Homo sapiens: one gene and its partners. The protein of the gene in region 2 interacts with the protein of the main gene of each other region in a pairwise test. Each region holds a gene or a part of one and is shown on either strand. Other genes may lie near its edges. The genes, in order: OTX1, ETFDH, MYH7B and TRIM69.

Region 1 (4,535 bases), on a different chromosome or scaffold from region 2:
TTGTCTGCTGCCAACATGCAGGACACGGATCAGTTTTTTGTCGTTTTGCTTTCTTTTCCTTTTTGGCTCAGCTCTGAGAGCATTACAGAGCTATCCTTTCCCGCCTCCCGACCCTCTTCCCCTCCCCCTCTTCTTTCTGGTGCAGGCAATTAGGGTGAAGAAATCAGTGCCAGGCTCCTGCCTCTGAAGAGAAAGGAATTGCTTCGGGAATTGAGTCCTGACACCTGTCTCTGTCCTGGATGGCGAGGGGGGATGCGGGGTCAAAACGCCTGGGGGAAGAGGCCAGGCTGACGCGGAGGGGCGTGGTGGGGGTGGGGGGAGACACTCCCTAAGCGAAAGTTTCTGGGGACTTCTCTTGCCAAGTCCTCCCGCCTCATCCTTTGGCCTCCAGCTTCACGCAGGTCATTAACACGCGGGTTATTAACACGGAGTTTCCCTCGCTTTTAGCCCCCCGAGACCAGGACCTCGGGCTGGAATCAGAAGAGCAACACTGACAAGCCGTTCATTAATTTGCATTTATTTTCGGGAAGTAATGTAGATAAAGAGGAGGAGGGGGACTGCCTTACATTTCAACAAGTAATTTGTGATCTTCACATCAGACAAATCAAATTTACAAATTACTTTCCCACCTACTGGACGAAGCGGCCAAAGCCAAAATTGATACACAGGCGCGCGGGCTCTCCGCAGATTTCGGAGAACGAAGGTGCACTAAAAACTCACTAGACAAAACAAGGGTGTTGAAAGAGAGAAGCCGACAGAGGAGTTGGAACTGGGTTTGGGGCCTGGGTTTGTTTGTTTTTCCCTAATGCTGTACTTTTACGGATTTTGTTTTGTTTTGTTGTTTTGTTCCCTGGTTTTGGTTTTCTTGTTTTAGGTTTGTAAACTGGAACTGCGACCCTGTGCTTAGACCGGGTGAGGGGGTCAGCCCTGCGCCCCTGCCCAACCCCCACCTCTGTACCCTGACTTGTCTGTTTCCTCCACACTTCGGATATCCCGCGCCCAGCTTCCTGAAACCAAGCGGTTCTCTTCAATAAATACACAGAGGGAGAAGATGTGAAGAGGGCAGGGCAGCTTTGCAACAACTGAAAAAGAAAAAGCGCCATTGATTGAGGAAGAGCAGAAGGGGGACGGACAGAGGGAAAATATTTTTTGCTTTTGTTTTTTATATATGTGTATATATATATGTATATATATATATATGTGCTGTATATATCTTAAAGTTCTGTTTCCTGGGTGCTAAGACAAGATATGTTCAGTTCAACCAACCAACAGCAACTAAAAAGTTTAAGTGGTCCCTGGAACGGACCTGACTATGTACAGCGTTCCCGCCGAGGCGGAAGCTTGAACCAGTCCAGCGCAGGGCGGGGCGGGATGCGGCTCTGTGCGCGGAAGGCTGGGGACGCGCTCCTCCGGCGGGCCTAGCCCTGGCGCGCCCCAGCGCACTCCGCTGGGGCGGAAGAAACGCCGGGAGGCTCTGGCCGGCAGGCGTGGAGCAAAATCGAGGGCAGCTGAAGGGGCAGCAGTCTGCGCGGGAGGAACTCTTAGTGGTTTTGATTTGGAGTAGTGTGCGGGTGCTCCAATGGGCAGAAACACGCCAGTTAGTGACTCCAGTGTCCAGAAAGAATAAATTAAAGTGTTGGGCTCAAACAGCGGATCAGAGCGCAGAGCCTCCGAAGGCTGCAAGTGCTTAATAGCTGTCCAGAAAGACTGGAAGGGGAGGCTTAAGAGTTTAGTAGGGGCTGAAGGGGGGAAATAATACATCTCTCCTGTATAGAATGTGTAGGCCAAGCCGAAGCACCGGTCCCCCCATCCAAGGGGCAGGGTGGGTTTGCACATCCCCCCAAGCAAGTGGCACAAAAATGGGGGCGGCAGTGCAGGCAATGGACATCTTTTTGGGGGGTGAAAATTCAGTTTTGGAGAAGACGAGGCAAAGGCGGGCGGTGCAGCAGCAGCAACAGGATCGGGACCACGGAGGGCGCAGGTAGTTGCGTTTCTTCTCCTCTTTCATTCCTGGGCTCACAAGACCTGGAACCGCCATGAGGCTTGGTCCTTATAGTCCAGACAGTCGGGGGAGTTGAAGTTGAGTTTCCAGGCGGAGGAAGCAGCAGCGGCGCCAGGCTCCTTGTAATCCAAGCAGTCGGCAGAGTTGAAGGCAAGCCCAGAGCCACCGTAGCCTTGGTGGTGGTGGTGGTGATGGTGGTGGTGGTGGCCTGAGGACTGGCTCAACGGGTGGTGCGCATGTGGGTGGTGATGATGGTGGCCCGCCATGGAGGAGGGTGCCATGGGGCTGAGCTGGTGCGGGTGGTGATGTGAGTGCATGGGCGCTAGGTATGAGCTGCAGTCCACGCCGCCAAAGTAGGAAGAGGAGGGCGTAGGGTAGCCTTGGCCGTAGCTGCCGCCCTGGCCGTAGGACATGGGATAAGAGGCTGCTGCGGTGGCGGCGCCTGCAGCTACGGAGCGCTGCATACACGAGGTGTTGCTAGGCGCGGCCAATGGCTCCGGCACCGACACGGACGCGGGCGCTGAGCCTGGCGAGATGGAGGCCGGGCTCCAGATAGATGAGGCAGCTGGTGTACTCAGCGACGACGCGGCCGCCACCGGGTTCCCACCTAGTCCCGCAGCCGCTGCAGCCGCTGGGTTGGCGGAAGAGCTGGACGCCGAGCTAGAGGACGAGGCAGAGCTGGACACAGCTGGCGGCGTGAATTGGCCACTGCTTTCGGAGCCCGAGCTCTCCCGCACTGGAGAGGACTTCTTCTTGGCTGGGCGGCTCTTGGTTCCGCTCCCGCTCTGCTGCTGCTGGCGGCATTTGGCGCGGCGGTTCTTGAACCAGACCTGCAGTGGGCCGGATGGGGGAGAGTGGGTCAAAGGGAGCTAGGGGAGCTTGTTGCTCCACCGCCCCGCGGACCCAACTCCCGGTCCAGAATATCGCAATCCTTTCTCACCGAGGCCTCCGCCCCTTCCTGTCTCTGGCCTGGCCAGACCCTGCCCCCTACCTCGGTTCCCAGCTCCTCCACCCTCCCCCATCCTTCTGCTCAAAGCCCCTCCTCAGCTGGCTCCAGAGCAGGGATGCGCACCTCCCCACCCCTACCGCAACTCTGCCCTAGGGCGGAATATTTCAGTCTGCCCAGTCAGAAGTTCTGCCATCTCTAAATTGCTGCTGTTGGCTGCTTCCGTGTATGTTTGGAGGCCCCGTGTGTGTTTGGAGGCCCAGTTTTCTACTAACAGAGCTCAGGCAACAGTGGAGAGGTACAGAGCCGAAGAGTGTGGAACAGTCACCAAGTCTAGGGCCTGAGCCGTTTCACTGAGCAGCTCCTGGAGGCCAGAACTGGGCAGGGCGAGTATTTGGGTGGGGGTAGGAGCAAGGCCAGAGGCTAAACAGAGGTAGTACTTGAGGGACTCGGGAAGGAAGCCTGGGTGGGATTTCGTTGGCCCTTTGGCTCCAGGTGGGGAACCAAATGGAATGGTTACTCTTCTAGGAGAGCCCCAGCACATGGCACTGCATTCCTGGTCCCCCTTCTCAAGCTTTCGAGTAAAGGAGGCGAGACTCTTGAGGAGAGTTCTGAGTTAGAATCCGAACGTTATCATCGGAACCCTTTCATCTCAAAAACAGAAATAAGAAAGCCGGCAGCAGGATTTTGCACTTAGCATCCTCTGTAAGCAGAGGAAGCGTCTAATGAGACCCAGGCAGAGCACCAGGCTCCAGCCAATCTCCGCTCTTCCATTTCTAGGATTCCCGGGGTGGAAGACAAGGGCAGAGGCAGAATTCAGGCCTCTAAGGGAAACTGCCAAGTCCTGGGGCAGGCGAAGAAGCAGGGGCAAGTGTCAGGCCCGCAGGGCGCTTTACATTCGGGAGCTTCCCTAGTCCTCCGGCAATTCTAAAAAGTACTTTCGATACCGACACCGAAGGCGCCCTAGGGCTAAAGGCGGAATCCAGGGCTCTAAGCCATTTCCTTTAACTTTTGCCCCCTTTCCTGGCTGGGGCCCAGCGCTAGGGGGAGTCCGAGAGCGGCTGCCCAGTCTGTAAGCCCACCCCCACAGGATGGTCTCCTCAAGAACTACTCAAGAGCCTTCCTAGACCTTCCCCGAGCAGCCTCAGCTCCCCTACCCAGACCCTGGAGCCCGGGGAGTGCGCACCTGGACTCTAGACTCCGGCAGGTTGATCTTGAGCGCCACCTCCTCCCGCATGAAGATGTCAGGGTAGCGAGTCTTGGCGAAGAGCGCCTCGAGCACGTCCAGCTGTGAACGCGTGAAGGTGGTGCGCTCCCGCCGCTGCTTCCGCGGAGTGGCTGCGGGGACACGCGGGGGCGCCGCGGGTCATTGGTGGCCACGTGGACCCGCGATAGAGGACTCGGGCAGGCCCCTGGCAGGCCCAGATCTCGGCCTTCGCAAAAGAAAGCCGAACTGGGAATAAAAGAAACTCCCTCGGGCGGCCGAGCCTGAGAGGCCACAGGTGGGAGAAAGTGCAGATGTGCGACTAGAAGCCAGTGTCTCCAAGATTCGAGGGCTGCCCCTCTCTATGCCTCTCAGAGGTTAAA
Region 2 (7,033 bases):
GAATATTTCCTGTACATGGAAGCATATACTATGTTGTCTTTTTGTGACTGGCTTCTTTCACATAGCATATTGTTTTCAAAGTTCTATGTGGTAGCATATATCAGTATTCAATTTCTTCTTATTGCTAAATATTTCATTATTTGGATATATCACTTCTTACCATTTATTGATCAACATTTGGGTTGTTTCTACTTTTTGGCTGTTATAAATAATTCAGCTGTTGGTCAGGTGTGGTGGCTTACACCTGGAATCCCAGCGTTTTGGGAGGCTGAGACGGGCATATTGCTCGAGCCCAGGATTTCGAGATCAGCTTACACAACCCAGTGAGACTGCTTGTCTACAAAAAAATAGAAACAATTATCCGGGCATGGTGGCATGCACCTGTAGCCCTAGCTACTCAGGAGGCTGAGGTGGGAGGATCACTTAAGCCTGGAAAGTCAAGGCTTCAGTGAGCCATGATCACATCACTGCATTCCACCCTTGGTGACAGAGTGAGACCCTGTCTCAAAAAAAAAAAAAAAAAGTCAGCTAGGAACATTCATGTGCAAGTTTTTGTGTAGAAGTATGTTTTCATTATCTTAGGGATAGACTTAGGAATGGGTCACATGAAAACTCTATGTTTAACCTTTTGAGGAACTGCCAGACTGTTTTTCAAAGAGACTGCATCATTTTTGCATTCCCCCAGGAGTGTATGAAGGTTCCAATTTTTCCACATCCTTGCTAACTCTTGTTATTGAAACCGCCCAACAGGTTCTCCTTGCCCACTACCCAGACAGAGCCAATTTATCAAAACAGGAGAATTAGAATAGAGAAAGAGTTTAATTCACACAGAGGCGGCTGTACAGGAGACCATAGTTTTATTACTCAAATCAGTCTCCCCGAAAACTTGGAGACTGGGGATTTTAAGGATAATTTGATGAGTAGGGGGGTCAGAAAGTGGGGAGTGCCAATTGGTCAGGTCAGAGGTGAAATCACAGGGAGATGAGTTTGTCGTCTTGCACTGAGTCAGTTCCAGGGTGGGAGCCAAACGACCAGATGAGCTAGTTCATCGATCTGGGTGGTGCCAGCTGATCCATCAAGTGCAGGATCTGCAAAATATCTCAAGTAGTGATCCTAGATTTTACAATAGTGATGTTATCCCCAGGAGCAATTTGGGAAGGTTCAGAATCTTGCCACCTCCAGCTGCATGACTCTTAAACCATAATTTCTAATCTTGTAGCTAATTTGTTAGTCCTGCAAAGACAGTCTGGTCCCCAGGAAGGAAGGGGGTTTGTTCTGGGAAAGGGCTGTGATTGTCTTTGTTTCAAAATTAAACTATAAACTCCCAAAGTTAGTTCAGCCTACTCCCAGGAATGAACAAGGACTACTTGGAGGTTAGAAGCAAGATGGAGTCAGTTAGGTCAGATCTCTTTCACTGTAATAATTTTCTCAGTTATAATTTTTGCAAAGGTGGTTTTATTATTGCTTGACTTCTCGACTATAGCCATGCTAGTGGATGTAATAGTACCTCATGTGGCTTTGGTTTGCATTTCCCTGATGGCTAATGCTGCTGAGCATCTTTTCATGTACTTATTGGCCGTTTGTATATCATCTTTGAAGAAGTGTCTATCCAGATCCTTTGCCCACTTTTTAATTGGATTATTTGTCTTTTGTTACTAGATATAAGAGTTCTTTCTGTATTCTAAATATAAGTCCATTATCGGATATATGATTTGAAAATATTTTCTCCCATTCCACGGGCTATCTTTTCACTTTCTTGATGGTATCCTTTGATGCACAAAAGGTTTTAATTTTGATGAAGTGCAGTTTAACTGTATTTTTTGTCGTTGCTTGTGTTTTTGGTTGTTCTATCAAAGAAACCATTGCCTAAACCCAAGTGTTGATGAAAAAGCCAAACTCCATAAACTATTTGAAGAGATTAATTCTGAGCCAAATGTGAGGACCATGACCCACGATACAGCCTCAGGAGGTCCTGAGAACATGTATCCAAGGTGGCTGGGTTACAGCTTGATTTTATACATTTTAGGGAGAAAAGTTACAGGCAAAGACATTAATCAATACGTGTAAGGTTTACATTGGCTTGGCCTGGAAAGGCAGGACATCTCAAAAGTTCACGAATTTGTGTTGGGCCACATTTAAAGGCATCCTGGGCAACATGTGGCCCATAGGCTGCAGGTTGGACAAGCTTGCCTTAAAAGGTATCAGACTCTTAGTTAAATCTCTCCTAGATCAGGAAAAGGCCTAGAAAGGGAAGAGAATTCTCCACAGAATGTAAATGTTCCTCACAAGAGACAGCTTTGCAGGGCCAATCCAAAAATTATGTCCAAGAAATATATTTTGGGGTACAATACATTGATTTCCTCTAGGGCCTGTTGTCATGTGATGTTATACCAGAGTCAGGTTGGAGTTGGTATCTTATTGCTACAAAGAGTCTGTTCTGTCAGTCTTAGGATTTCAATATTAATGTTAATGCTGGTCAGTTATGTCTAAACTCCAAAAGGGAGAGGGTATAATGAGGCATGTCTGACCCTCTACTTACCATCATGGCATGAACTACTTTTTTGGGTTTCTTTGGAATCCCCCTGGCCAAGAAGAGAGTCCATTCAGTGGTTGGGGGCCTTAGAATTTTGTTTTTGGTTTACACAAGGTCACAAAGATTTACACTCATGTCTTCAAAGAGTTTTATGGTTTTAGCAAATATAGGGTTTGATCTTTCTTGAGTTAACTTTTTTTATCACCATAATCTTTTTAACTTTTTATCTTGAAATAGTTTTAGATTTACAGATAAGTTGCAAAAATAGTACTGAGAGTTCCCATATGCCCTTTGCGGAGCTTCATGTCTTATGTAACCATAGTATAATTATCAAAACTAAGAAATTAACATTGATGAAATAAAGTTAATTAAACTACAGATTTTATTCAGATCTTCTTTTTCTGTTCCAGGATCCAGTCCAGGGCACAAGGTTGCCTTTAGTTGGCAGGTCTCCATAGTCTACTTCAATTTGACAGTTCCTCTGTCTTTTCTTGTGTCCCAAGACCTTTACAGTTTTGATATGTACTGGTCGAGCATTTTGTAGAATGTCCCTCAATCTGAGTTTGTCTGATCATTTCTCATGATTAGACTGAGGTTAAAGATTTTTGGGGATAAATACCACAGAGATAAAGAACCCTTTTCACCACATCATATCAGGGATACATGGTATCAATATGTCTTATTGCTGGTAACATTAAACTTGATCACTTGCTTAAAGTGATATCTGCCATATTTCTCTACTGTAAAGTTAACATTTTTCACTTTCCATTCTCTACTTGTTAGAAGCTACTCAATAAGTTCATCCCACATCACTCAAAGGGAGGAGAGAATTGAAGAATTTATGGATATATCACCATCTTTTTTTTTTTTTTTTGAGACAAGGTGCTTGTTGCCCAGGTTGGAGTACAGTGACGTGGTCCTAGCTCACTGTAGCCTCGAATTACTGGGCTCTAGTGATCATCGTACCTCAGCCTCCTGAGTAGGTGGGACTGCAGGTGCATACCACCACACCTAGCTAATTTTTTTACTTTTTATTTTTTATTTCTGTAGAGAAGAGGTCTTGCTATATTGCCTAGGAGGATCTTGAACTCCTGGCCTCATGCAGTCCTCCCGCCTTAGCTGAGATTTACAGTCATGAGCCACTGTGCCCAGCCAACCATAGTCTTCTATACTTTGAACCTACCCTAATAAAATCTTCGATCAAATATAATTCATTTTGACCTAGGGAGCAGAGTATACTTTTTTTCTGAATGGCTTTCTAGCTATCTCTGCACCATTTAATGAGTAACCATTTCTTCTCCCTAATTTGAAATGGTATCTTTATTATATACCATATACCTATGTGTATTCTATTTCTGAACTCTTTATTCTTTTTTTAATTATTCTATCCCTTCTCCTATAACAGACTTCTAATGAATATAGCTTCAAATATAAGTTTCTATATCTGTCAAGAGTGGTTTCATGGGAGGATTCTTTGTCTTTTTTTAATGATAGGGACGATTATCAAGATGAACAGAGCCTGAGAAGGGAGTCAAAATTGAAGCTCAGAAGGGATGGTATCAGATGGAGGAATGTCTCTAGACAACGGGAGAGATAAGCCTTCTCATCCAGCTAGAAAGATTAACCCCAGTGGAGAAGAATATAGTCTGTTTCACTATATTCATTGAGTACAATCAACGGGAGAAAAGACATCTCTTCTGCTATAAACTGAGATAATGAACAAAGTATGGGCACAAATACAGATTATATTAGAAGTTACTGCCAAGGAGTTGAGAAAATTCCCATCTAATTGCTTCTGTCTTTATGAGGTTTGATGCTAGGGTACCTGCCCTGGATAAAGGAAAGAAGAGGTGGAGTTGAAGGTTTGAGGACAACAGAGAAGGTTCAGTGAACATTTTTGCAGATAAATCTTTGCATATTTCTGTTCATTTCCATAAAATACTTTTTGCTGACTCAAAAATGTATACATTTTTAAGGATATCAGAAGATACTGTGGCCAGGTGCAGTGGCTCACGCCTATGATCCCAGCAATTTTAGAGGCTGAGGCAGGCAGATCACTTGAGGCCAGGAGTTCGAGACCAGCCTGGCCAACATGGCAAAACCGCATCTCTACTAAAAAAAAAAAACAAAAATCCAAAAATTAGCTGGGTGTGGTGGTGCACACCTGTAGTCCCAGATACTCTGGAGGCTGAGGCGTGAGAATCGCTTGAAACCAGGAGGCAGAGGTTGTGGTGAGCTGAGATTGCACCACTGCACTGCAGCCTGGGTGACAGAGTGAGACTCTGTCTCAAAAAAAAAAAAAAAAAGAAGAAGAAAAAGAAGAAGATACTGCCTTAAGAACCTGACCATAAAACAAAGTTTGTGCTTAAAGCCATTGACCTAACACGGTGATTATACTACTCCATATTACTCTCAAAGTGTTCAGCTTTCATGACTAATCCATAGTTAAGCCTGACATGAGCTAAATTGAATAAATTTGCTTATTAGTTTTAAAATATTTAAGATTTGAAAACATTGCTTTATGAGAAAAAGCTATTCAAAGTGTTCACCTAGGAAAGATTATAGTATATTTCACTATACTCATTGAGTATAGTCATTCACTTATATTTTTTCAGTCTACTGAGGAAAACTAATTTTAAGGAAGATAATAATTTTCGTAATTTTTGTGCAGCATATCAGTGCTTTCATGCCTTAAAAATTAAGAAAAATTATCTACCTCTATGTGCTACAAGATGGTCTTCAACTTCTACTGTGCCTCGAATTACTACCCATTATACTATTTATCCCCGGGATAAGGACAAGAGATGGGAAGGTAAGTAATAATTTGTGTACAATTCCTGAGACTTTTCTGGATACTTTGTTTTCATTTTGTGGAGGAGAGTATTAATATTTTTCATAATTTAAAAACATCTAATAATATTTTGTGGCTTTACCAAGTCACATGCTGCATAATGACCCTTCAGTCAACAACACGACAATTATAATGGTAATCCCTTGACATTATAATGGAGCTGAAAATTCCTATCACCTAGTGACATCTTTTAGAACATAGCTTCCAGACCATCGTAGCTCAACACATTACTCAATTATTTGTGGTGAGTCTGATGTAAACAAACATACTCTACTGCCAGTTCTTTAAAAGTCTACCATATACAATTATGTACAGTACATGATACTTGATAATAAACGACTGTTACTGGTTTATGTATTTACTGTATTATACTTTTATCATTATTTTAGAGTGTACTCTTACTTAATTTTTTTAAAAAGTTAACTGTAAAACAGACACAGGCAGGTCCTTCAGGAGGTATTCTGGAAGAAGCTACCATTTGCATAGGAGATGACAGCTCCATGCGTGTTATTGTCTTTGATGACCTTCCAGTGGGAGAAAATGTGGAGGTGAAAGATATTGATGATCCTGACCCTGTGTAGGCCTAACTAATGTGTGTGTTTGTGTCTTAATTTTTAATAAAAGAGTTTAAAAGGTAAAAGGAAAAAAAATTTTAAAAAGAAAGAAACTTATAGAAAAATGATATAAAAACCATTTTTTGTACAGCTGTACAATGTGTTTGTGTTTTAGCTAAGTGTTATTACAAGAGAGTCAAAAAGTTTAAAACATTTAAAAGCTTATAAAATAAAAACATTACTGTAAGCTAAGTTTAATTTACTGACGAAAAAATTTTTTTATAAATTGCGTGTAACCTAAGCATACAGTGTTTATGAAGTCTATAGTAGTGTAATGTCCTTGTCCTTCACATTCTCACTGCTCACTCAGTCACTCACCAAGAACAGCTTCCAGTCCTGTAAGTTCTATTCATGGTAAGTACCCTGTACAGATATACCATTTTTAAATATTTTATACTGTATTTTTGCTGTACTTTTTCTGTGTTTAGATGTGTTTAGTTACATACATACTATTATAGTTGCCTACAGTGTTCAGTATAGTCAGTCACATGCTATATAGCTTTGTAGCCTAGGAGCAATAGCCTATACCCTGTTGCCTAGGTGTATCATAGGCTGTTCAATTAGTTTGTGTAAGTATACTCTATGATGTTTGCAAAAGGGCAAAATTGCCTAACGATGCATTTCTCAGAAAGCATTTCTGTCATTAAGTGACTTGTGACTGTATTTTACACAAGTAAATATTTGCTAAATGTATAATAATAAATCTCAAAGCCAAGAATTAGTTTATGGAAACTGAAATAAAGTATGTACTGGAACAGAACCTAAGAATATAATCATACTAATACAGTAATATGCTTAATATAATTATTGTGCAAAACACAGGGAGAATTTCCATAAATAATACTCTAAAGCACAGTGGATATTTTTTAACTGTCATGTGATTTATCATGTGATTATTGGGTTATATTAATCCCAGAATTTTTATTTCTCCCAGGAGTGAACATGGAAAGGTTTGCAGAAGAAGCAGATGTTGTAATAGTTGGTGCAGGCCCTGCAGGGCTCTCTGCAGCTGTTCGTCTAAAACAGTTGGCTGTG
Region 3 (7,033 bases), on a different chromosome or scaffold from region 2:
GCCCGTGTCAGAGATCCAGAGCTAGCTGGCACGTCAGCCCAGGCCGCTGACTCCAGAGCCCCGTGGCTTAACAGCCCTGGTGTCTTCCGGGAATTGCAGAGGCCACCAGGACATGGGGGGCTCATGAGCCCCTTCACTGGAGGCAGGCCTGTGGGACTGTGGGCCTCCCCTCACCCTCACCTATAAAGCAGAGCTATTAGGAGCTACTCCATGAGGCTGCTGGGAAGGCAAAACAAGTGAACTGTGCTGAGTGTCACCATTTGTGACGGGCAGCACTGAGCCACCTTCACAGCTTGGCTGCCCCTCCCTAGGGATGCGCTGTTCACCATCCAGTGGAACATCCGTGCCTTCAATGCCGTCAAGAACTGGTCATGGATGAAGCTCTTTTTCAAGATGAAGCCGCTGCTGCGCTCGGCGCAGGCTGAGGAGGAGCTGGCGGCCCTGCGGGCAGAGCTGCGGGGGTTGCGAGGGGCGCTGGCTGCGGCCGAGGCCAAGCGCCAGGAACTGGAGGAGACGCACGTCAGCATCACCCAGGAGAAGAATGACCTGGCCCTGCAGCTGCAGGCTGTGAGTCAGGGTTCCCCTTGTGACCGGGCGTCCCCAGCCCCGAGTACCCCTGGCTGCTCTGAGGGATAGTACAGCGAGACCCATGGGGCTCAGGCCTTATGTCTCTCTGTTCCAAAGATGCCATGAGATGAGGCCTCCATGTCCCAGCCTCACCACCCCAAGGCCTCGTCTGGCACGTTTCCTGGCACTCTCCCCTCGTGCCACCTTGGCCTCCCGCTAAAGCAGAGGAACCCCAGCTCCCCAGCTCTCCCCTCCCTGCAATCCCTGAAACCAAACAGACCCATGCTCTCTTCTCTGGTTAAGGGCCATGGGAACCCAGGTGGCAGGTAACAGGGTGATAGCCAGAGAGCACAGATCAAAGGTCTGGAATCTCCCCAGGTCCACAGAGCAAGCTTTCCTGCCTTCGGCACATGGCTTTGTGTATCAATTGTGTGCCAGGCTCAGGCTAGTGCAGGAGGAACGTTGGTGGGAAGACAGAGATGGCCCTGTGGTCACAAAACTCACCTGCTAGTGCAGGAGACTGTGACGCAGCTGGACAGTAAGGAAATGGGGGGTAAGGATACCTGAGCCCTTCCAGGGACTGCCTCCAGGAGCCCGTCCGTGGCTGTGCAGAGGCTGCTGCTGCTCACCCTGCCCCTCGGAAGGCCTCAGCCCAACAGCGGGGCAGTGAGCAGCGGGCTTCCCTCTCAGAACCCTTGTTTGGGCCTCACTCTGGGCCGCCCCGCACTTCTAACTTTCCCCTCTTAATGCTCTGGTGTGTCCCTCTGCGCTATTGCCCTTCCATGCCCAAGAGCGAGTCAAGACATTCCTGAGTTCTCAGAGCACAGCCAAACTTTGCTACAGAGGCAGTTTCCTCTCCAGGGCCTGGCCTGGTGTCTCTCTGCTGGTTTACCTGGCCCTCCCCCAACCTGGCCCCGTTCCGTGTGCCCTCCAGGAGCAGGACAACCTGGCAGATGCCGAGGAGCGCTGCCACTTGCTGATCAAGTCCAAGGTGCAGCTGGAGGGGAAGGTGAAGGAGCTGAGTGAGCGGCTGGAGGATGAGGAGGAGGTGAACGCTGACCTGGCCGCCCGCCGGCGCAAGCTGGAGGACGAGTGCACGGAGCTCAAGAAGGACATTGATGACCTGGAGCTGACACTGGCCAAAGCTGAGAAGGAGAAGCAAGCCACTGAGAACAAGGTGTGGGCCGGGCCAGCTGTGGGGAAGGGCCCTGAGCCAGGGGCCAGCTTTGGGGCCAGGTGGCTGCAGGTCCCACCCCGGCTCTGCTAAGCCTCTGCTTTCTGGCCCTGGGCATGTCACTGCCTTTCCTGGGCCTCAGTTTCTTTATCTGTCAAGTGGGGTTAGCAGCACTTACCCCATTAGGGTAGGTGGTGATGTGTGTAATTGGCCTTTACTGAGCACACGCTCCTAGGCCTTGCACACGGTAGGTGTTTAGCACATGCTGGCAATCCTCATCCATCCCGGAGTGCAAGCCCCTTGAGGGCAGGAACTCCATGTCCCCAGCTCGGCATCCCGCAGGTGACTTCTGCCCTTGAGCCCTCGTGATGGCCCCTGTGGTTCCCAGTGCTGGAGGAGGGACTCCATTACACAGGAGGGAAAGTGAGGCAGGGGTAGGCAGCTTAGGTTCTCACAGGTGCTCACTGAGGAAGCCGGGACTAGGAGGCAGCTGCCCTGAGCACATGCTAATACTGCACATGGCTGGCATCTGTGGATTTCTCACCAGGCCAGGTGTGGTGCTGAGCACTGCGGGTGCATCCACTCGTGAATCCTCATTACAACCCCATGAGGAGGGTCCTTCCCTCAGGCAGAAGCGGTGGAGGCTCGGAGTCAAGTGACTTGCCTGAGTCCCATAGCTGGAAGGGGCACTTGCTCTGACCTGGTGTGGTGTGGTGGCCGCTCAGAGTGCGGGGAAGGGCGTCCCCATTCTGGCCCTGGCCCTGGCACAGGTGAAGAACCTGACGGAAGAGATGGCTGCGCTGGACGAGTCAGTGGCCCGGCTGACCAAGGAGAAGAAGGCGTTGCAGGAGGCCCACCAACAGGCCCTGGGTGACCTGCAGGCCGAGGAGGACCGTGTGAGCGCGCTGACCAAGGCCAAGCTCCGGCTGGAGCAACAGGTGGAGGACGTGAGTCAGGGCCACCCCGAGACTGGGTGGCGGGGCCGGGGTGCCGGCTGGCTTGGGCCATGGCTGACCCCTGCTGTGCCTGCTCTGCAGCTGGAATGCTCCCTGGAGCAGGAGAAGAAGCTGCGCATGGACACGGAGCGGGCCAAGCGCAAGCTGGAGGGTGACCTGAAGCTGACGCAGGAGTCGGTGGCTGATGCTGCTCAAGACAAGCAGCAGCTGGAGGAGAAGCTCAAGAAGTAGGTGTGGTGGGGCAGCAGGTGGGGGCCTTCTGAGCCTGCACCTGGCCCTTGTTCCCTTCTGGATTCTTGTGGTTCCTGCGGCATTGCAGAGGTTAAGGGTGGGGGTTGACAGATGGGGCACTGGGGTGCAGGGGTAGTGTCTTGCCCTCCCTGTACTGAGGGCCCTAGCCAGGGTCCAGGGCTGAGGCCTCAGGGCCCAGTGCAGCAGGTGCATGGGGTGAGGTCCCTCAGGGCCTGAAGGGGACTGGGGGGCGTTATGGGGTCCCAGGCGGGTGGGTGGGAGTTAAGGCCTGTGCTGGCCACCCACTCTGTGGCTCCCAGGAAGGACTCCGAGCTGAGCCAGCTGAGCCTGCGGGTGGAAGACGAGCAGCTCTTGGGGGCCCAGATGCAGAAGAAGATCAAGGAGCTGCAGGTGCGTGGGGATCGGGTGGGTGAGGCCTGGGGTCAGAGGCCCACAGAGGTGACAGCTGCCCCACGTGCCCACCCCAGGCTCGGGCGGAGGAGCTGGAAGAGGAGCTGGAGGCAGAGCGGGCAGCCCGGGCCCGCGTGGAGAAGCAGCGTGCAGAGGCGGCGCGGGAGCTGGAGGAGCTGAGCGAGCGGCTGGAGGAGGCAGGCGGCGCATCCGCGGGGCAGCGCGAGGGCTGCCGCAAGCGGGAGGCGGAGCTGGGGAGGCTGCGGCGGGAGCTGGAGGAGGCGGCGCTGCGGCACGAGGCCACAGTGGCGGCACTGCGGCGCAAGCAGGCGGAGGGCGCGGCGGAGCTGGGGGAGCAGGTGGACAGCCTGCAGCGGGTGCGGCAGAAGCTGGAGAAGGAGAAGAGTGAGCTGCGCATGGAGGTGGACGACCTGGCTGCCAACGTGGAGACTCTGACCCGCGCCAAGGTGTCCGTGCCTTCCTCACCCCATACCCACCCTGACTTTAAACCAATCCCGATCCCAGCAGCCAATACTGTTCCCACACCAGCCTCCACCCAGTACCTTATCCTGAGCCCTGACCTCTTCACCTGGTACACAACCCTCATTTCTCAGCCTCCTACCAGTCCTGACCTTAAGCCGTGACTCCCAAGCCCTGTTCCCTGACTCCAGGTCATTTCTGATCCAGCATCTACTTCCAGCCTCAGACCCTTGAACCAGCAGTAGTTGTGACCCTAGCCCTTGACTCCTGAACTCTGACTTAATACCTGTCCTCTCTTCCTGTCCTGAACCCCAGCACCCTAGCCTTAACCCCTGACCTTTCTACCACATAATCCTGACAGCTGACCTCTGACCATTGTCCCCAGGTGACTCCGCAGCTACCATCCCAACTCTCACCCTGACCCACTGCCCTGGGACTGGCCCAGCCCTGTCAGTTCTGACACCTGTTAAGCCCAGCAGTAGAATCTCTTTCCCTGACTTTGAACTTGGGGCTCTGCTCTCCCTTTGATTCCTGGGCCCACATCTAGCTTACCAGTCTCTGATCCCAGATCCTGCCATCTGATGCACAAACTTGTTCTGACATCTAACTCCTGACCCCTGACTCCCAACCTGGGATCCTAGGCCAGTGCAGAGAAGCTGTGCCGGACCTATGAGGATCAGCTAAGCGAGGCCAAGATCAAGGTGGAGGAGCTGCAGCGGCAGCTGGCGGACGCAAGCACGCAGCGTGGGCGACTACAGACGGAAAGCGGTGAGGCTGGGGCTCAGCTGGCCACACCAGGCAGGGCTTTGGTGCAGCCCTCACCAGCCTGACCTGTCCGCTCGCCTCTTTGCCTGCAGGGGAGCTGAGTCGCCTGCTAGAGGAGAAGGAGTGTCTGATCAGTCAGCTGAGCCGTGGAAAGGCCCTGGCCGCCCAAAGCCTGGAAGAGTTGCGGCGCCAGCTAGAGGAGGAAAGCAAGGTGGGCTGGCACCGGTGACCATGGAGTGGGCAGGTGGGCACCAGAGCCACTGGGCTGCACTAACGCTGAGGTCACTGGTGTCCCTGCAGGCCAAGAGTGCCCTGGCCCACGCCGTGCAGGCTCTGCGGCACGACTGTGACCTCCTGCGGGAGCAACACGAGGAGGAGGCTGAGGCCCAGGCTGAGCTGCAGCGGCTGCTGTCCAAGGCCAATGCCGAGGTGGCCCAGTGGAGGAGCAAGTACGAAGCAGATGCCATCCAGAGGACCGAGGAGCTGGAGGAGGCCAAGTGAGTGCTTTGCTGGCCAGGCCACTGCCATGCAGAGCTTTATGCCTGTGCCTGAGCCCCGCTGAGGGTGGGTGAAGGGAGCTGCTGGGGCTGTTCTCCCTCCTTCCATGGTCCACACCTTGTCTGGTTCCATGGCCTAGAAAAAAGCTGGCACTGCGGCTGCAGGAGGCAGAGGAGGGCGTGGAGGCTGCCAACGCCAAGTGCTCATCGTTGGAGAAGGCCAAGCTGCGGCTACAGACAGAGTCAGAGGATGTAACCCTGGAGCTGGAGCGGGCGACCTCAGCAGCTGCTGCGCTGGACAAGAAGCAGCGGCACTTGGAACGGGCACTGGAGGAACGGCGGCGGCAGGAGGAGGAGATGCAGCGGGAGCTGGAGGCGGCACAGAGGGAGTCCCGTGGCCTGGGCACCGAGCTCTTCCGGCTGCGGCACGGCCACGAGGAGGCACTTGAAGCCCTGGAGACGCTCAAGCGGGAGAACAAGAACCTGCAGGGTAGGACCTGCCACACGCCAGGGCCAGGGTGCTGCCCTGGGGTCGGAGCAACTTTGAGTTATGGGGGTGCCCTGGTGGGGCCACCCTGGAATCAGGGGTGAGTGGAGTGACCTGGGTGGGAGTACAAGCCATGGGGGTGGCCTCTCAGCACCCTGTCCACTGCAGAGGAGATCAGCGACCTCACAGACCAGGTGAGTCTCAGTGGGAAGAGCATCCAGGAACTGGAGAAAACCAAGAAGGCGCTGGAAGGCGAGAAGAGTGAGATCCAGGCTGCACTGGAGGAGGCAGAGGTCAGGGGCTGGCTGCAGGGGTGGGTGGACACTGACCTGCTGCTCCACTGGCCATCCCCCCCCCCCACCCTACCCTGCCTGCTCTGTATCCACAGGGGGCCCTGGAGCTGGAGGAGACCAAGACGCTGCGGATCCAGCTGGAGCTCTCCCAGGTCAAAGCAGAAGTGGACCGGAAGCTGGCAGAGAAAGACGAGGAGTGCGCTAACCTGAGGTGTGTCCATCCTTCTCCCGTCCCCACCTCCCGAGAGCAGAAGGGGAGGGAAGCAGTGTGTACTCTGCTCTCTAGTCTGTCCCTCCCATGGGACTTTGAGGTCCGGGTTGCTGTCTCCATTCTAGCTGTGAACCTCGGAGATGCTAAAGGACTTGCCCAAAGTCACACAGTGGGGGTGGAGCCAGTCAGTCCACCTCTGTCTGCCTGGGCCTCACTCTTGTCCATGAACTTGCTCTGATGGGCCACAGGCAGTCACAAGAGACTTTAAATCGGGGAGGGGTGACTCATTTGTTCTCAAAATGGGTTCGTTTCCAACGGTCCTTGGGCATTTGTAAGGACAGGTATGCCCTTACGAGACCCCCTTTCATGCCACCCTCCTCCCATAGGCGCAACCACCAGCGAGCTGTGGAGTCCCTGCAGGCCTCCCTGGATGCAGAGACACGGGCCCGCAATGAGGCGCTGCGGCTCAAGAAGAAGATGGAGGGTGACCTCAACGACCTGGAGCTGCAGCTGGGCCATGCCACCCGTCAGGCCACAGAGGCCCAGGCTGCCACGCGGCTGATGCAGGCACAGCTCAAGGAGGAGCAGGCAGGGCGGGACGAGGAGCAGCGGCTGGCAGCTGAGCTCCACGAGCAGGCGCAGGCTCTGGAGCGCCGGGCCTCGCTGCTGGCTGCGGAGCTGGAGGAGCTGCGGGCTGCCCTGGAGCAGGGCGAGCGCAGCCGGCGACTGGCAGAGCAGGAGCTTTTGGAGGCCACCGAGCGCCTCAACCTTCTGCATTCGCAGGTGGGGACAGGAGTCCCTGGGGACAGAGCAGGTGCAGGCCTGCTGGCTGGCTGGCTCTGAGACTCCTCTTCCCCTCAGAACACAGGCCTCCTAAACCAGAAGAAGAAGCTGGAGGCGGACTTGGCCCAGCTGAGCGGGGAGGTGGAGGAGGCTGCACAGGAGAGGCGGGAGGCTGAGG
Region 4 (7,033 bases), on a different chromosome or scaffold from region 2:
TTATTATTATTGTTTATGGTTATTGATTTAATGAGAAATCACAAATATATCCCTGATTTAATGAAAAATCGCAAATTTTTCCAGGTAATTGACATTGAAGAAAAATCAACTATACTGAGATATAGTTAACATAGAGTAAAATTATCCAATTTTAAGGGCACAATTTGATGAGTTCTGATGTATATATACACTTAGGTAAACCTCTCCATAATCAAAATATAGAAGATTTTTATCACTCCAAAAAGTTCCTACATGCCCCTTTGAAATCAATCTCTTCCTTCTACTCTCAGCCTCTAACATTCACTGACATGTTTTATTTCACTTTAAATGTGTCTTTTCTAAATTTTTGTCTAAGTGATAGCATACATTATGTAGTGTTTTGTGTCTTCTGGTTTTTTTCACTTAGCATAATTTTTTTTTTTTTTGAGATGGAGTCTCGCTCTGTTGCCCAGGCTGGAGTGCAGTGGTGCCATCTCTGCTCACTGCAAGCTCTGCCTCCAGGGTTCATGCCATTCTCCTGCCTCAGCCTCCCGAGTAGCTGGGACTACAGGCGCCTGCCACCATGCCCGGCTAATTTTTTTATATTTTCAGTAGAGACGGGGTTTCACCCTGTTAGCCAGGATGGTCTCGATCTCCTGACCTCGTGATCTGCCCGCCTCAGCCTCCCAAAGTGCTGGGATTACAGGTATGAGCCACTGCGCCAGGCCGCATAATGCTTTTTGAGCACTTATGTTGTTCCATGTATCAATAATCATGATTATTTATTCAGTTTACTTATTCATTTCCCAGTTGATGGACATGGGGTAGTCCATGGTAGTTTTATCCATCCTGCAATTAGTGAAAATCCCAGTTTCTCTATATCCTTTCCAAAACTTGATATTGTCAATCTTTTTAATTTAAACCATTTTATTGAATGTATAGTAGTATCTTATTGTGGTTTTAATTTGTATATCTCTTGTTTTGGTGGGAGGGTGGGACAGAGTCTCACTCTGATGTCCAGGCTAGAGTACAGTGGTGCATCTCAACTCACTGCAACCTCTGCCTCCGAAGCTCAAGTGATTCTTGCGCCTCAGACTCCCCAGTAGCTGGAATTACAGGCGCGCACTGCCATGCCTAGCTAATTTTTGTATTTTTAGTAGAGATGAGGTTTTGCCATGTTGGCCAGGCTGATCTTGAACTCCTGGCCTTAAGTGATCCATCCACCTCAGCCTCCTAAAGTGTTGAAATTACAGGCATGAGCCGTGGTGCCCGGCTGCATATCCCTAATGAGCAATCCTGTTGAGCGTCCTTTCAGGTGCTTCCTTGCCATTCATATATTTTTTTGGTTGTGTTCAAACTTTTGTCTATATTTTTGTTAAATTGTTGTATTATTAAGTTGTAAAGGATACAAATCCTTTATCAGATATATGTTTCTTAAATATTTTTTCTCACTCCATGGCTTGCCTTTTCAATTTATTTTTATTTATTTATTTTTTTGAGATGGAGTCTCACTCTGTCACCCAGGCTGGAGTGTGGTGCAATCTCGGCTCACTGCAAGCTCCGCCTCCCAGGTTCACGCCATTCTCCTGCCTCAGCCTCCCAAATAGCTGGGACTACAGGTGCCCGCCACCACGCCCGGCTAATTTTTTTGCATTTTTAGTAGAGATGGGGTTTCACCATGTTAGCCAGGATGGTCTCGATCACCTGACCTCGTGATCTGCCCGCCTCGGCCTCCCAAAGTACTGGGATTACAGGCGTGAGCCACCGCACCTGGCCATCTCTGGCTAATTTTAGGACTTGCTTTTTGTCACTTGCTTCCATCAATTTGATTATACGTGGTCTTGGTGTGATTTTCTTTGTATTTATTCTGCTTGTGCGTCATTGAGCTGCTTGGATCTAAGGGTTTATAATTTTCATCAAATTTTGAATAATATCAGCTGGTATTTCTTCAAATACTTTTTTACCAACCCCTTTTCTCCTCTCCTTCTTGGAGTCTAATTTTACATATTTTAGACAACTTGATATTGTCAAGTTGTCTCATGTCATCGATATTCAGTACTTTTTTAGCCTTTTTTCACCTCACACTTTATTTTAAATGGTTTCTATTGTTATTCAAGTTCTCATCTTTTCTTCTGCATGGTCTAACCTTCTGTTAATATTGTTCAAGATATTTTCATTTTATATACATTTCATTTCTAGAAGTTTCATTTGGGTCTTTTTATATCTTTCTTATCTCTTCTCACCATGTTCATGCCTTCCTCTACATTCTTGAAAAAATGGAAGACATTTATCCATTTTAATATCCTTGTCTGCTAATTCTATCATCATTGTCATTTCTGGGCCTGATTTTATTGTTTGATTGTTCTCCTGAGAGTCATATTTTCCTGCTGCTTTGTATGGCTAGTAATCTTTTTCTTTTTAATGGGCTTTATTTTTTAGGACACTTTTAGATTTTTTAATTTTACAGAAAAACTGAGAAGATAGTATAGAGTTTTTTATATGCCCCATCCTCACTTTTCTCTATTATTAACATCTTAGATTTAACATTTTTAACAACTAATGAACCAAATTGATACATTATTAACTGAAATCCATAGTTCCTTTAGATTTTCTTAGTTTTTACCTAATGTCATTTTTCTGTTTTAGGTTTCCATCTAAGGTGCCACATTACACTAAGTTGTCATTTTCTTTAGGTGCCCCTTGGCTGTGACAGTTTCTCAGGCTTGCCTTATTTTTTATGACTTAGATAGTTTTGAGGAGTACTGGTCATATATTTTGTAAGGATGCTGCACTATTGCAATTTGTTTGATGTTTTCCTCATAAAATTTGGGTTATTAATTGGGAGAGGAAGACAGTAGCATTAAAGTGTCATTGTCATCACATCACATTAAGTGTTCATACCGTCAACATGATTTATGACTATTGATGTTGACTTTAATCACCTGGCTGAGGAAGTGTCTGTCAGGTTTCTCCACTGTACTCTTTTTCCCTCCTTCTATACTTGTATACTTTGGAAGGCAGTCATTGTGCACAGCCCACGCTTAAGGAGGGGATAGTTATGCTCCCTCTCCCTGAGGGTAGTGTATTAATGTAAATTATTTGAAATTTTGCTGCCCTGGAGATTTGTCTCTTCTGGTTGGTAATTTTTTACTGGATGCCAAATATGATGAATTTCATATTGTTTGTACTGATGAATTCATATTGGTGAATTTTGTATTTGCTGGATTTTGTTGTAGTTCTTTCAGTTCTATTGAATTTAACTCTGGCATGCAGTTAACATGGTATGACATCATTTTGTTCCTTCTGAGGCTTAAATAAAGCCTAGTTAGAGTGGCTCAAGAGCAGCCTTTAATCTAGGGCTAACTTAGCCCATTTTCTAAAGTAATATACCCTTCTGATTACCCTACCTGACGTTGACATATTACGACATTTTTCCATTCTGGTTGGCAAGATTGAAAATTATTCCCAGCCTTGTGTGAGCTCCAGAAATTGTTCAGTCTATTGATTTCTGGAGGTTCTTTCTCTGGCCTTGACGAGTTTCACTGCATGCATGTGCAGATTAGTACTCAGCCACAGCCTTGAGAGAATCCCTTTGTAGATGTTTGTAAGTTTCTGTGAAGTTCCCTCCTCTGTGTTACTCTGCTTAGCAAATTGTAGCTGCCTTGGTATGACAGAGTTTTTCTTCCTGTATACTTTGCTCTGTAAAGCCAAACTTCACTTCTAGCAATCTTTTAAAATGCAAACTGATTTTTAAATTTTTGGTATAATTTTACATCAAGAAAACCAAATGAGATTTATTTAATATATGACTATTTATTAATAATGTATTATTTATCCATATACTCTCCCTCTATACAGAGTGGGAAATTGTTTTTCTATGGTAACTGTGGTCAGACCTTTGTAAAATATATTCCATACTTTTTATTTCTAAGTCTTTGCTTATTTTGTAGATCCATATATTCTCCTTTTCTGCCAGCCTTATAAATTAGGCTGTTGCTTTAGAGCAGGAGCTGGCACTTTTCTGTAAAGGTTTGAAGAGTAAATATTTTAGGCCTTGCAGGTGTATGGTCTTTGTTGCTGCTACTTAACTCTGCTCTTGTAGTGAAAAAGAAGCTACAGACAACATATAAATGAATGGTCATAAATGTGCTCCAATAAAACTTTACTTACAAAGTAGGCAGTGGGTCAGATTTGACCTGTTGGTTGTAGTTTGCCTACTCTAGCTTAGGGAATTTTTCAATTTAAAATATTTGCATGAACAAATGCCCAAATAATGTGGAGTGAACCATATGGGGAAAAAGCATTCTAGGACAAGGGAAGAAATTATAAGGACCCTGAAGTAGGAATGATCTTCATTATGTTCAAGGAACTGCCAAAAGACAAGGGTGGATGAATCAAAGTAAATGAGGGAAAGTGTGGTAGGAGATGAAGTAGAGAGGTAGGTAAATCATGTGGCTCTTTTTTCCTCTATAAGGACTCTGGATTTTATCTCAGATGTGATGGTAAACATAAGAGTATGCTGAGCAGGGAAATGGCTTGATCTCATTCATGATATGTGTAGAATAGGGTGCAGATGGGCAAGAGAGGAAACAGAAGAGTAAAAAGCTATTGCAGTAGTTCCAGGCCAGTGATATTTCTGGAAGTAGTCAGAAGTGTTTGGGCACAAGATATATTTTGAAGGTGGAGCTGACAGAACTTTTCGTTATATGAACGTGGCATGAGAAGGAAAGAGAGGACAAAAAGCTGACTCATGGGAATCTTCAGAGCCAGTGCAGGCTGAACTAGCTAGAGATGTGTCAGAGGCTTAGCAAAGAGAGCAGAGTGGGATTCCAAAACGTTGCTAAAAAGTCTTTATGGTACCTCCAAAGAAAACCCAGTCCTCACATCAGAAAGATTAACAACCCAAAGTGAATGGGGATATGTAAGGGGATAGGGATTTAGCCTATATGGAAAAATTCAAGATTCTTAATTCTTCAAAGCCTCTTGTTGGAAAGAGAAGTCCCTGGGATAATGGAAAAGACTCAGGCTTTTCTGAGAAGATAGAGTTAGACTAGAGTTCATGACTAGCCTGGCCAACATGGTGAAATCCTGTCTCTACTAAAATTACAAAAAATATCAGCTGAGCGTGGTGGTGCATGCCTGTAATCCTAGCTACTCAGGAGGCTGAAGCAGGAGAATTGCTTGAACCCAGGAGGCGGAGGTTGCAGTGAGCCGAGGTTGTGCCACTGCACTCCAGCCTGGGGGACAGAGCAAGAATCTATCTCAAAAAAAACAAAACAAAACAAACAAACAAACAAAAAAAAAACAGAGAGAGAGAAACTAGATTGATTCTGCTTCCAAGGATAAATAAATCCAATAACAACAAATGCATGCATACATGTATCTGTGTCCATGGTGTGCACACACATAGCTATTAGGTCTCCTTTATCAAATTTCATGTCAAGGTCCAATGATCTCACATCTGGAATTTGTGTCATCCTCTTGCTGGTCAGCTTTCAACCTCTCTTCATTTAGTTTAGATATTCTTTTTTATACTGCTGCCCTTTGAATTGTCTAAACCAATGCTTGTAAAATTATCTGTGATGAAGGGCCAATCAAAAAAATCTCAATCTGTCATGGACTGATACTTTTGTAGAATACAATATAAATTACTTGAAAAAGTAAAATTAAAAAAAGCAAAGATTACAAAGTACAAGCCCAATTTTGTAATTATTAGATTCAACTGACATAAAATTACTGTCAATTTGCTATGAAAGTTTTTAAAAGTTTACTGTTAATTTCTATACTATCTTTGTCCGAGACTGTTAACCACATGGTATGTGGACCACATTATGAGTAGCAATGACATAAACCACTCTAGATCTCAAAAATCTCATTATCTGTTAAACCAAAATAAACCTCTCACTATTGTCCTCTAAACTCTGTACCAGTTAGTTCAGTCTTGCCTGTGTCTAACAGGCAAGCTCTTGTGTTCTCTTCCACACAGGGGACTGTTTTTAATCCATTTCTTTCTTTCCGTTTATTCAAAACATCCTAAATACATCTCATGTATATACAACTGAATACTTACCTTCCTCAGAAAGCTTTCCTAGAACATCCTTACCTAATTTTTACCCCTTTGGCATTTGTATTTTCTTATATTTATTAGTATAGGTTTATATTATTTGTATTGTTTCCTTTAGTAGAGCATAAATTACTTCTGAGTAAACCCTGATTTTTACCCTAAATATAAAAATGTCTAGAATATAGTAACATGGATACCCAAACAATAAAAAGCATGTAAGTGGCCAGGTGCGGTGGCTCATGCCTGTAATCTCAGCACTTTGAGAGGCCTAGGCAGGTGGGTTGCTTGGGGCCAGGAGTTCAAGGCCAGTCTGGCCAACATGGCGAAACCCTGTCTCTACTAAAAAATTACAAAGATTAGCCAGGTGTGGTGGCACACACCTGTAATCCCAGCTATTTGGGGGGCTGAGGCACGAGAATTGCTTGAACCCAGGAAGCGGAGGTTGCAGTGAGCCGAGATCGCACCACTGCACTCCAGCCCTGGGCAACCTTGTCTGCCTCAAAAAAAAAAAAAAAAAAAAAAAAAAAAAAAGCATATAAGTAATTGCTTGCCTGTCTAAGAGTCTATGTGTATGGGGAGATAAAGTACTATTGAATATGAAATACTATCTTTTACTGTGGGAATTTGTGTTTACCCCCCTTTCTCCCATGCTCTGCTTTCTTTTATTTTCTTACTAGGCCTGTCTCCACTAACTCTGGACCCTAAAACAGCTCACCCAAATCTGGTGCTCTCCAAAAGCCAAACCAGCGTCTGGCATGGTGACATTAAGAAGATAATGCCTGATGATCCTGAGAGGTTTGACTCAAGTGTGGCTGTACTGGGCTCAAGAGGCTTCACCTCTGGAAAGTGGTACTGGGAAGTAGAAGTAGCAAAGAAGACAAAATGGACAGTTGGAGTTGTCAGAGAATCCATCATTCGGAAGGGCAGCTGTCCTCTAACTCCTGAGCAAGGATTCTGGCTTTTAAGACTAAGGAACCAAACTGATCTAAA

What was found.
Region 1: the proteins of ETFDH (region 2) and OTX1 interact in binary tests that used the Homo sapiens proteins (3 or more experiments, as listed by UniProt).
Region 3: the proteins of ETFDH (region 2) and MYH7B interact in binary tests that used the Homo sapiens proteins (3 or more experiments, as listed by UniProt).
Region 4: the proteins of ETFDH (region 2) and TRIM69 interact in binary tests that used the Homo sapiens proteins (3 or more experiments, as listed by UniProt).

The regions. Positions count from the first base shown.
Region 1 is NC_000002.12:63,053,798-63,058,332, reverse strand, and holds the end of OTX1 (homeobox protein OTX1), read right to left. Parts: intron 4,402-4,535; exon of another isoform or gene 4,287-4,401; coding exon 4,135-4,286; intron 2,833-4,134; coding exon 2,017-2,832; 3' UTR 502-2,016; downstream 1-501. UniProt on the Homo sapiens protein: Probably plays a role in the development of the brain and the sense organs. Can bind to the BCD target sequence (BTS): 5'-TCTAATCCC-3'.
Region 2 is NC_000004.12:158,675,263-158,682,295, forward strand, and holds part of ETFDH (electron transfer flavoprotein-ubiquinone oxidoreductase, mitochondrial isoform 1 precursor), read left to right. Parts: intron 1-5,204; coding exon 5,205-5,345; intron 5,346-6,845; exon of another isoform or gene 6,846-6,932; coding exon 6,933-7,033. UniProt on the Homo sapiens protein: Accepts electrons from ETF and reduces ubiquinone.
Region 3 is NC_000020.11:34,993,835-35,000,867, forward strand, and holds part of MYH7B (myosin-7B), read left to right. Parts: intron 1-311; coding exon 312-567; intron 568-1,501; coding exon 1,502-1,744; intron 1,745-2,511; coding exon 2,512-2,688; intron 2,689-2,778; coding exon 2,779-2,924; intron 2,925-3,248; coding exon 3,249-3,339; intron 3,340-3,416; coding exon 3,417-3,806; intron 3,807-4,460; coding exon 4,461-4,587; intron 4,588-4,676; coding exon 4,677-4,795; intron 4,796-4,884; coding exon 4,885-5,081; intron 5,082-5,221; coding exon 5,222-5,571; intron 5,572-5,736; coding exon 5,737-5,861; intron 5,862-5,956; coding exon 5,957-6,072; intron 6,073-6,458; coding exon 6,459-6,855; intron 6,856-6,933; coding exon 6,934-7,033.
Region 4 is NC_000015.10:44,760,511-44,767,543, forward strand, and holds part of TRIM69 (E3 ubiquitin-protein ligase TRIM69), read left to right. Parts: intron 1-6,720; coding exon 6,721-7,033.